3 linked regions of the Homo sapiens genome follow. The protein of the gene in region 3 interacts with the protein of the main gene of each other region in a pairwise test. Each region holds a gene or a part of one and is shown on either strand. Other genes may lie near its edges.

Region 1 (3,748 bases), on a different chromosome or scaffold from region 3:
AGAGGTTGCAGTGAGCCAAGATTGTGCCACTGCACTCTAGTCTAGGCAACAGAGCGAGACTCTGTCTTAAAAAAAAAAAGTCACTCTGTCTAGGTGGTGGATAGTTTAAGTGTTCCTTGTAGAATTCTTTCACCCTTTTCTTTTTTCTTCTTTTTGTGATGGAGTCTCGCTCAGTTGCCCAGGCTGGAGTGATCTTGGCTCACTGCAACCTCCACCTCCCAGGTTCAAGTGATTTTCCTGCCTCAGCCTCCTGAGTAGCTGGGATTACATGCATGCGCCACAACGCCCAGCTAATTTTTGTATTTTTAGTAGAGACAGGTTTCACCATGTTGGTCAGGCTGGTCTTGAACTCCTGACCTTGTGATCCGCCCATCTTGGCCTCCCAAAGTGCTTCGGTTACAGGTGTGAGCCACTGCGCCCAGCCTCTTTCTCCCTTTTCGCATGCGTGAAATTTTCTTAATAAAAACTGAGGTGGGGTAGGAGGGAGTGGAACTACCTACTCATATCTTAGCTGTGATATTCTGTACTGCTACATTCCACCTATCTCTTTGGTATTTACTAAATAACTGGTAGCCTTGTTGGTTGAATTTCTTGATTTATTCCCAGGACCAATTTTCATGTAGCTTGTATATATACATTTCTCTTTTTTTATTTTTATGCATCCATTTTCACTTAATATACATTTCTTAAGACATAGCAAAATAGTTAAATAAGAAATAACAAATTAAGGTGGATTATGTAGGCTACCAAGGAGGTACATTACTTTCTTCCATTAATCCATTATTTGACATCTTGGTAACCTAGGTGGTTTCTCTATTTTGTAGTAATTGTAACATGATTTTTTTGTGCACTCAATAGGTTTTACTTAACACTGCAGGCTCACACAGAACTATTAGCAATACTCAGTCTCTTGTCTCATCCTTCAATCCATAATATGGGAGTACCAGATAAATACTCTCCTGGAGGGAAGGGGACTATTTCTTAAATGCTGGCGAATATGGTAGTCTATACTAAGGCCCTATATGATCAGCTAGTCAATAAAAGTCTATATAATTGTAAAGGCAAGATAAAAACAGACCTTTTAAAACAATATACTATTTAAAAGCAGCAAAAAGAATCCTGCAGATACACCTGTATACTTTTAAGGTATTTAATGGGCAGCAAATGTTGCCTATCTTCATCTCAAAGAAAATGAGAAAAAGATCTGTTTTCCACAACTATCCTGACATACTTGGTTCTTGAAAGCTCTGAATTCCTTTGTCTTGTTCTTTCATAGCTGTAAAGTCCAGAAATGAAGAATGAAGAATTCAGAAATGAAGAATTTGGTATCTAACGTTTTCAACTTACTGCCAGTACATACCTGCCCAAAAATCAACATAAAAAGAACATTTGGAACAGGAAAAATATTTTACAGAAAACAAACATTTTAAGAATACCACTTTCTTGTTCCAGGGTGAAAAATAAACAATGATAATCCTCAACATAACTGGTAATTATGTTTTCAAGTTACCTCAATTTTTGGCTCTAAAAAGGACTAATACCAGAAAACCTATAGGGCTGAATACTTAATCTGTGTATAAAACTATAGTTAAACATGTAATAAGCTTTTATTTATCCAGTCTTTTGCACAGCCCATTTTGTCCCTCACAACATCTGTTATAGTACCTCATATGTAAGAATCATAAGGGTTTTAAGTAGTCTTAATAACCTAAAATTTCCAAACTCAAAATACTTTCCTCTTGTCTGGTAGCCAATCCTGTATCAAGAAACACCCAAATATTTAGTTCTGTGCTCTTTACTAAAACAAGTAAGCAACAAGTTCTCTTCTTTAAAGGGGTTCAATATTCAGGAGTCCCTTTCCCAAGAAAAATATCTATACTATGATGGAAAACTTTTCTTCAATGACAGCTGTGTGTTGCCTAAATTCCATTTCTATGCTTTCAATTTCTTTTAACTCTGCTAACACCTAGCAATAGGTTAGTGTCTCTTTTCTGCTCTCCTCCCCTTGGTTACATATAAAAATACGTTTTTCAGTTGGGCGTGGTGGCTCACGCCTGTAATCCCAGCACTTTGGGAGGCCAAGGCGGGTCGATCAAGAGGTCAGGAGTTTGAGACCAGCCTGATCAATATGGTGAAACCCCATCTCTAGAAAAATACAAAAATTACCCAGGTGTGGTGGCGCGTGCCTGTAATCCCAGCTACTGAGGAAGCTGAAGGAGGAGAATCGCTTGAACCCAGGAGGCGGAGGGTGCAGTGAGCCGAGATTGCGCCATTACGCTCCAGCCTGGGCAATAGAGCGAGACTCCATCTCAAAAAAAAAAAAAAGACAAGTTTTTGTGAATATGGCTTAATATCACAAACAAGAATACCAAAGAATCTATCAAAATGTTACCATATTGATATTATGGCAAAGGCATTAACCAGCTCTAGGATTTGTAATCAACCAGCTCTAAAGTTTTTATTTTACAGATAAGGTCAAAACAGTGGTTTAGAGAGACGAAGTAACTTCCTCAAGGTTACAGTTAGTAAATATCCCAGTTAGGATTCAAAGCAAGCTTTTTTTGCTTTAGAATTCTTCCCCAGGTCACTGCCTCTTCCATCAACTTCAACTATTTATAAATTCTCCCAAGTTCCCCAAGGGAGTTAGATTTGAATGATGTAAAGAGCAGAAACATAGGACTGACTGAATGATTCTCATTTTTTTGACTCTTAAAATTATTGAAGACGCCAAAGATCTTTTGTTTATGTGAATTTTATCTTTCCACATTTACCACAAATTTTTAAAATGTAGTATTTATCAATGTATTTTAAGACAAGCCCATTATAAGTTAACATAAATAACATTTCAACAAAAAATACTTTCCCTCCAAAAAGTGAGAAAAGTAACGTTGTTTTGCATTTTGCAAATCTCTTTTATGTCTAACTTGATAAAAGATGGTTGGATTCTCACAGTTACTTCTGCATTCAGTCTGTTGCTATATGTAGCTTTGGTTAAGTATATAATGAAAATCTAGTCGGAAAAGGGAGAAGTATTTTAATAACCTTTTCAGATAACTGTGTTTGGTAAATACTAAAACTCAACAAACGGTAGTTTCTTTCTTTTTTTTTTTTTTTTTTTTTTTTAATAAATAGAGACAGGGTCTCACTATGCTGACCAGGCTCAACTCCAACTCCTGGGCTCACACAATCCTTCCACCTTGGCCTCCCAAAGTGCTGGGATTACAGGAGTGAGCCACCACGCTAGGCCAAATAGTAGTTTCTTAAAGGACAGTTAACATTTTGGAATCTGAAACCACATCAATCCACTTTTTTACTGTTAAAATCCATTGCTATGTCTGGAATTTTCAAAGGATCTTTTGCCTTTGCTTGATTTTGCAACATCATGCATTGGTCATTTGCAAAGCCTAGATTTACTGAGTTATGCCCATCTTCCAAATAACATATTTCATTAAACAACATTTTAAAATATTGCAGTCCTTAACCACTGATATCATAAGGAAAGTCTTTTAAGTACTAGGAAGCTGTCAAACTCCAGCTGTCAACTTTTTAAAAATTCTAATTTTCACCCAAATTTTATCACTGGTAATAAATACTGTCAGTTGTTTTCCTAAAAGTGACAAGCTCACTTCATTTTCAAGAAATATCTGCCAAATACTAAGTGTGAAAAACCATAGTCTGCTAGTCGTTCTTTCAAGTAAAAATGCTACTCCATGAAATAAGCCATTCATTCACAACCCAATCTCACAAA
Region 2 (3,748 bases), on a different chromosome or scaffold from region 3:
GGACCACCCGCCCAGCTCGGCCGGATCTGCAGCCCCTTCCCGCTCGCCAGTGGAGTGGAGGCGAGGCCCACGCCTACCGGTCCTCGCACGCGGTCTCGCTTTTCTCAGCCTGCCGGCCTGGTGTGTCTCGGGCCGTAGGTGGCGACGTGGGCGAAGGATCAGCGTCCGCGCGGGCCGGGGGCGCAGCCATGGCGCTCGGAGGCCTCTTTGCGGGCCTGGCCGGGCGGCGCGCATGGGCCGCCGGGAGCTGGCGGGTCCCTCTCTTGCCCACCGCGGACTACAAGCCCCACAAGGCCGCGCGTCGCGGACTACAAGCCCCACAAGGCCGCGCGTCGCGGACTACAAGCCCCACAAGGCCGCGCGTCGCGGACTACAAGCCCCACAAGGCCGCGCGTCGCGGACTACAAGCCCCACAAGGCCGCGCGGCGGGCATGGGGGACCCGTAGTTCGGCAGCCTCCGCCACGTGCCTGGAGGGCCCCGCCCCCTGTTTTTCACCACAAACTGAGCCGCACAAAAACCCTGGAAAAAAATCAATAAACATTTATTTGATACAGTCATTTTAATACATACAGTGATGGCCCGTCCCCACGCCACTCGGGACCAGGGCGCGGGGCGGGGACGAGGACCGGGGACAGATGGTCACAAGGCGGGCGGGGCCCGAACTCACCGTTGAAACATCTCGCAAATAAACACTTTGTAGATAGAATATATATGTATATATATATGGTTACAAGTGATAGCTGGAACCTCTTTCAAAATGCACTTATGTACTGAGAACTGGCATTAAAAAACCCAAACCAAGAAACCCAAAGCACGGGACGCCCGGCCGCGAGGCAGGGGAAAGCCTGGGGCCCCAGACCCGGGCCTGGGGGAGCCGCCTGGGGCCCCGCCAAACGCGGCACACGGGGACGGCCCCTCCCGGGGTCAGGCTCACTGGCTCCTTCCCTTCAGCGCCACCAGGCAGGAGGGCCAACGGTCACACAGGAGGCACCCTCACCTGCCTTTGCACCAGCAAATAAAGTGCATCCCATTTTCGTGTGAGCGTCGGCCCGGTGAGTCAGCCCTTCCGGGCCCTTTCCTGTTCTCAGGGCAGGGGGCGTGCGCTGAGCCAGAGGTAGATCTGCAGAAAGGGCCCCGACTGGGCCTCGGGCAGGGCCGGCGCCCACCACACTCTGGGGGTCAGCTATGCTGGTCCCTCTCACTGAGGGCTCCTGGAGGCCTATGTGGGCCAGCGTAGGGAGTGGGCAGACCCTGCTGAGCTCCACCCAGGGCCCCACCCCTTGGGAGGAGGGCTCTGCGGACCAGCATGTGGCAGAGGGAGGGCAGAAAGGAGGGGGTCAGACCCAACAGCCACTTCTGGCAGTAGCCCCCACGCCTACCTTAAAGACAAAGGGGGTTAAAGTGCTAAACATCAAGGTATCCAGGACTCCTCTTCCCACACCAGGGATTATCTGTGGGCTTTGGGAGTGTCCCGGAAACTCACCCCCAGCAAAAACCAGACCCTCTTCTCTTCTCCCCAAGGGCCAAGTACCTGAGAGGCTGGGGCAGGCACCACACCCTGCAGGTGTTCAGGTCCACCCTCCTCCCGCCATTGGTGGCAAGGACAAAGTGCACCTAGGCCCCCGCCCAGTGCCTGCTCCCCTCCCCTCCCCTCCCCTCCCCTCATGAGGCTGCCCCAGCAGCAGCTGCCAGACCCCACCCTCCACCTCCGGCTCCTCCAGCTCCACCAGTGAAGCTCTGGGACACAGGAAGGAATGCCTCCCCCGACCCTCTGACGCTGGGTCACGCCCATCTCTGCCCCAGCCTCCATCCTCTCATCAGGCCGAGGTGTGCGTGGGTGGGGGGAGTCCGGGTCTCCACACCCACTCCCTGGCACATCTGGCAAGGGCTGCTGAGGGTTGGAGCCTTCTGGCCCAAGGATGAAGCCAGAGACAGGAAGTGTTCTGCAACCCCAGTCCCCAAAGTGCTCCTGGAACTTGTCTCCCTACTACTGCAGGCCAAGCCCAGTGGGGCCCCTTCTCCCTGGGGAATGGGGGAGGGTGGGTGCTGGGGGCAGAGGCAGTGCCCAGTCAGTACTGCCTCCCTGAGCAGCAAGGGACCCCAACCCCAGAGACCCACGCCCTGGTCCAGCCCAGCCCCCAGGCCCACCGTCTGCACCAGGAAACCCTTAGCACCAAATGTCGGATTGCGAGTGTTTGTATAAAAAACAATTTAAAAAAAAGGTTGTTACTTGTCACAGCAACAAGACTGGCATCCACTACACCCAGGAGACACACGCACACGGGCAAACATCAAAATTCTCATCGTCCAGGGTCAGTGGGGCCGAGCCCTCAGCCCACTCCCACCCACCCTGGAAAATGGCCTCCCTCCAAACCTACCCCCTCTGAGCCTCATCCTCCCTGCAATGCCGTGGTTGGAAGGCAGGACCCCAGGGAGGGAGCCACAGGCTGTGGCCACCTCTTCCAGGCACCCTGGACTCCCTGCCTGACCCCTGCCCTACCTATAGACCCAGCCGTCCTCAGGGCCACAAAGGGGCAAAGACAGCTCTGGAGCTGCCATCAACCTGCTGTGACTTTGGCCAAGCCCCTCCCCTGGCTGGCCTTCAGTTCCCATATCAAATGACCACACAACCAGAAACAATGGGGGCAGGTTAAAAAAAAAAGTGGGGAGGGGGCTCCCATGAGAGCTTGGCCACTGGGCCTACCCAGATTGGCAGACAGAAGGCTGCCTTTCCCCCAGTGGCCACTCAGAGCCAGGCCAGCTCTGCCCAGCTTCCTGCCCCACATGCCTATGGGCCCCAGCAAGACCCCAGGGCCCGAACTAGTCCGTCCCTACTCCACGAGGCTGCTCCAACCTAGGCCTGCAGTGCCAGAAGGCTGAACACTGGAGGAGAGCACACTCCAGGGGCCCCACACCCCCAGGGCTGGCAGCTGTGTTGAAGGGCATCAAGCTTCTGCTGCCCTGTAGGTACAAGAAGCAAAACCCCTCCCTTGCCCCAAGCTGGGAGAATTACAGACAGGCCTGGGGGGCAGGGCCTGAGCACAGCAGGGATCGCACTGACAAAGGAGGAGCAGGGGTGGGGGTAGTGGGCAGGCCTGGAGAGGTAGAAAACAGAAGCAAGGGGACCAAGTGGGTGGCCAAGGGCAGGCCGGAGCCTGTCAGGTCAGCATGGCAGTGGTCAGACAGGGGTCTGTCCTGGGAGGTAGCTGGGGGTGCTGGAGTTCCAGTGTTGGGTGGAGGTGAGGCCAGGATGGTGGCTGCCCGTGCCAGGTTGCTCAGGTGCCCTCACCAGCCCAGAACCACAGGTCACCAGGGATGCCTGAGCCTTGGGGTAGCCAGGGAAGGGACCCGGCAGGGCCTGAGGAAGCGGAGCCGGGGGGCCAAAGGCCATCTGCCTACTCTGCGCTGCAGCCCCTGTGGCACCAAGACCCCAGACACATTCCCATGAGGAGGGGCAACCCTCCTGGCTATTGCACTTCTGCTGGGCACACCTTGGGGAGCCCCAACCCAGGTGTGCCCTGTGGCAGCCTTAACAGGGGAAGGGCCACCTTCAGGGAAGGGAGAGTGGCTGGCTGCCCCACTGGACGGATGAAGAGGCGGGGGTGGGGGATGGAGAACTGGAGGACAGAGGTCCCGGAGCTGGCCCTGCCTTGAACAGAGGGCGGTGTGGCGGCTGCATGGGGGCCAGGCCCCACGCACCATGCTCACTTTTCAGGCGCCTTGCTGACTCCCACCTTCCGGCCGGTG
Region 3 (3,748 bases):
CACGCCATTCTCCTGCCTCAGCCTCCCGAGTAGCTGGGACTACAGGCGCCCGCCATCACGCCCAGCTAATTTTTTGTATTTTTTAGTAGACACGGGGTTTCACCGTGTTAGCCAGGATGGTCTCGATCTCCTGACCTCGTGATCCGCCCGCCTCAGCCTCCCAAAGTGCTGGGATTACAGGCGTGAGCCACCGCGCCCGGCCTCAAATCCTTAAGACCCCTCAACACAAATATTTCCGGTTTCCAACAACATTCCAACAAGACTGGCAAAGCAGCATCTAGAAGGCTGAGAAACTAAGGAGAGCTTTCAGTGCAACTCACCAAAGAGAGACGGAATTTGAAGTTTCAATCTTACCAAGTTAGGAGGTAAGATTACGTCCCAGGACTAAATATTCACCCTAAGACCTTATAGCAACACTGAAACAGACCTGCCTTAACAAAGTACAAAACCCAGCCACAACACGTAATTTAACTAGCTAATAGAAAAAAAAAATCAATATTCTCCAGAGAAAGATAACAAAATTCAGAATCTCTATAATGTGTCATCCACAAGGTCCAGAATGCAATTTAAAAATTACAATTGCTTAGCCAGGCATGATGGCTCACGCTTGTAATCCTAGCACTTTGGGAGGCCGAGGTGGGTGGATCACCTGAGGTCAGGAGTTCGAGATCAGCCTGGCCAACATGGTGAAACCCCACCTCTACTAAAAAAAAAAATACAAAAAATTAGCTGGGCATGGTGGCGGGTGCCTGTAGTCCCAGCTACTCGGGAGGCTGAGGGAGGAGAACCAGGTCAAAGACAAATTAATATACATTCTCCATCTGAAGAACCTTGAGAAAGATTGTTAAAAACCCCAAATAGGCCAGGTGTGGTGGCTCACACCTGTAATCCCAACACTCTGGGAGGCCAAGGCGGGTGGATCACCTGAGGTCAGCAGTTCGAGACCAGCCTGACCAACATGGTGAGACCCCGTCTCTACTAAAATTACAAAAATTAGCCAGGTGTGGTGGCCGGTGCTTGTAATCCCAGCTACTTGGGAGGCTGAGGCAGGAGAATCGCTTGAACCCGGGAGGCGGAGGTTGCAGTGAGCCGAGAGCGTGCCATTGCACTCCGGCCTGGGCAACAAAAGCGAAAACTGTCTCAAAAAAACAAAAAACAAAAAAGCCAAATAGATTCCCAGCAACTTGTAAGACAACACCTAGTTAATATACATGTAACTAGAGTTCCAGAAGGGCAGTAGACAATTTAAATTTTTTTTTTTTTCCCCAGAAGCAGTGGCTTGTACCTGCAGTCCTAGCTTCTTGGGAGGCTGAGGCTGAGGGATCCCTGAAGCCCAGGAGTTTGAGGCCAGCCTGGGTCCCAGCTACTCGGGAACACTTGCCTCAGCCTCCCAAAGTGCTGAGATTACAGGTGTGAGCCACTGCGCCCAGTCCTTATTTCCTTCCATTTACTTTTTTTGTTTAATTTTTCTTAAGGTAGAAACTAAGATCATTCAATTTAAACCTTTTTTTTCCAATACAAGCATTTAAAAGAAATTTTCCTCTAAGAATTGCTTTACCTTCCACTGACTTTTTTTTTTTTTTTTTTTGAGACAGGGTCTCCCTCTGTCGCCCAGGCTGTAGTGTAGCTGTGCTACCTCAGTTCACTGCAACCTCTGCCTCCTGGGCTCAAATGATCCTCCCACCTCAGCCTCCTGAGTAGCTGGGACTACTGGCATGCGCCACCACACCTGGCTAATTTTGTATTTTTAGTAGAGATGGGGTTTCACCATGTTGCCCTGGGTTGGTCTTGAACTCCTGACCTCAGGTGATCCACCTGCCTCAGCCTCCCAAAGTGCTGGGATTACAGGCATGAGCCACCGCACCCGGCCCCCAGATCCTATGTATATTAAAGAGATAATAAGGAAATAGTATGAACATCTTTATATCAATAAATATGAAAACTTAGATGAAACAGACAAACTTACAAAAACAAAACTTAGCAAAATGGATACAAAAAAACATAGATAACTTGAATAGTATAGATCCACTTAAAAACTTGAATCCATAGTAAAAAACAACAACAACAACAACAAAAAAAAAACAAAAAAAAACCTCCGCAAAAAGAAAACTCTGGGCATAGATGGTGGTGTCCTAATTAACTCTATCAAGCTTTTATGGAGAAATAATACCAATCTTACACAACTATCAGAAAATAGTACAGAAGAGAACACTTCCCAACTTGTTTTATGAGGCAAGCCTAACCCTGATATTGAAACAGGAGATGAAACTTTTTCTTATAATTTCATAATAAATTATAGATCAATATGGTTCATAAACATTGACACCAAAATCCTTAACAAGATATTAGCAAATTGTCACAGAGGATTTTAAGGGCAGTAAAAATACTCTAATAGAGTATGATCCTCTATTGATAGATGTATGTCATCATACGTTTGTCCAAACCCATAGAATGTACAACACTAACAGTGAATCCTGATGTAAATGATGGACTCTGGGTGATTGTGATGTGTACGTGTAGGTTTCAACAGTAACAAACGTGTTCCTCTGGTGGGGGTGTTCATTATGCAGGAGGCTATGTATGTGTGGGGGCAGGGAGTGTAAGGGAAGTCTCTGTACCTACCTCTCAATTTTGTGGTGACCTATAACAGCTCTAAAAAATCATCTTTAAAAAATATTAGCTAATTGAATCCAGCAAAATACAAAAATACATCATAACCAAGTGATATATTAGCTTTTTTATATGTAAATTAAAACCACAATGATAGACCACTTAACATCCAGTAGAATGGCTAAAACTTTAAAACAACTCCAAATGTTGGTGATAATATGAAACAAACAGAATTCTTTTTTATTTTTTATTTTTTTGAGACGGAGTCTCGCTGTCACTCAGGCTGGAGTGCAATGGTGCAATCTCAGCTCACTGCAACCTCCACCTACCGGGTTCAAGCAATTCTCCTGCCTCAGCCTCCTGAGTAGCTGGGACTAAAGGTGCACACCACACCATGCTAATTTTTTGTATTTTTAGTAGAGCCAGGGTTTCACCATGCTGGCCAGGCTGGTCTCGAACTCCTGACCTTGTGATCCACCTGCCTCAGCCTCCCAAATTCCTGGGATTACAGGCATGAGCCACTGTGCCTGGCCTCTTTTTTATTTTTTTTAGAAGACAGGGTTTTGCTCTGTCATCCAGGCTGTAGTACAATGAACATGGCTCACCAAAGCCTCAACCTCCTGGGCTAAGTGATCCTCCCACTTCAGCTTCAAGAGTAGCTGGGACTACAGGCATATGCTGCCATGCTTTGCTAATTAAAAAAAAAAAAAAAAAAAAAAATTGGACAGGCACAGTGGCTCAGCACTTTGGGAAGCCGAGGCGGGTGGATCACCTGAGGTCAGGAGTTGGAGACCAGCCTGACCAACATGGTGAAACCCCCTCTCTACTAAAAATACAAAAATTAGCTGGGCATGCTGGTGGGTGCCTGTAATCCTGCTACTAAGGAGGCCGAGGCAGGAGAATCACTTGAACCCGGAAGGCGGAAGTTGCAGTGAGCCGAGATTGGGCCACTGCACTGCAGTCTGGGCGACAGAGGGAGATTCCGTCTCAAAAAAAAAAAAAAAAAAAAAAAAAAAAATTGGTGGAAACAGTGTCTTGCTACATTGCCCAGGTTGGTTTTAAAATCCTGGGCTCAAGCAATCCTCCGACCTTGGCCTCCCAAAGTGCTGGGATTACAGGTGTGAGCCACTGCGCCCAG

Evidence for each region.
Region 1: the proteins of ZNF143 (region 3) and POGZ interact in binary tests that used the Homo sapiens proteins (3 or more experiments, as listed by UniProt).
Region 2: the proteins of ZNF143 (region 3) and ZNF512B interact in binary tests that used the Homo sapiens proteins (3 or more experiments, as listed by UniProt).

Annotation. Positions count from the first base shown.
Region 1 is NC_000001.11:151,452,796-151,456,543, forward strand, and holds part of POGZ (pogo transposable element with ZNF domain), read right to left. Parts: intron 2,108-3,748; exon of another isoform or gene 1,232-2,107; intron 1-1,231. UniProt on the Homo sapiens protein: Plays a role in mitotic cell cycle progression and is involved in kinetochore assembly and mitotic sister chromatid cohesion.
Region 2 is NC_000020.11:63,956,183-63,959,930, forward strand, and holds the end of ZNF512B (zinc finger protein 512B), read right to left. Parts: coding exon 3,706-3,748; 3' UTR 522-3,705; downstream 1-521. Other genes in the region: UCKL1 (uridine-cytidine kinase-like 1), read right to left, coding at 78-190. UniProt on the Homo sapiens protein: Involved in transcriptional regulation by repressing gene expression. Associates with the nucleosome remodeling and histone deacetylase (NuRD) complex, which promotes transcriptional repression by histone deacetylation and nucleosome remodeling.
Region 3 is NC_000011.10:9,519,906-9,523,653, reverse strand, and holds part of ZNF143 (zinc finger protein 143), read right to left. Parts: intron 1-3,748. UniProt on the Homo sapiens protein: Transcriptional activator. Activates the gene for selenocysteine tRNA (tRNAsec). Binds to the SPH motif of small nuclear RNA (snRNA) gene promoters. Participates in efficient U6 RNA polymerase III transcription via its interaction with CHD8.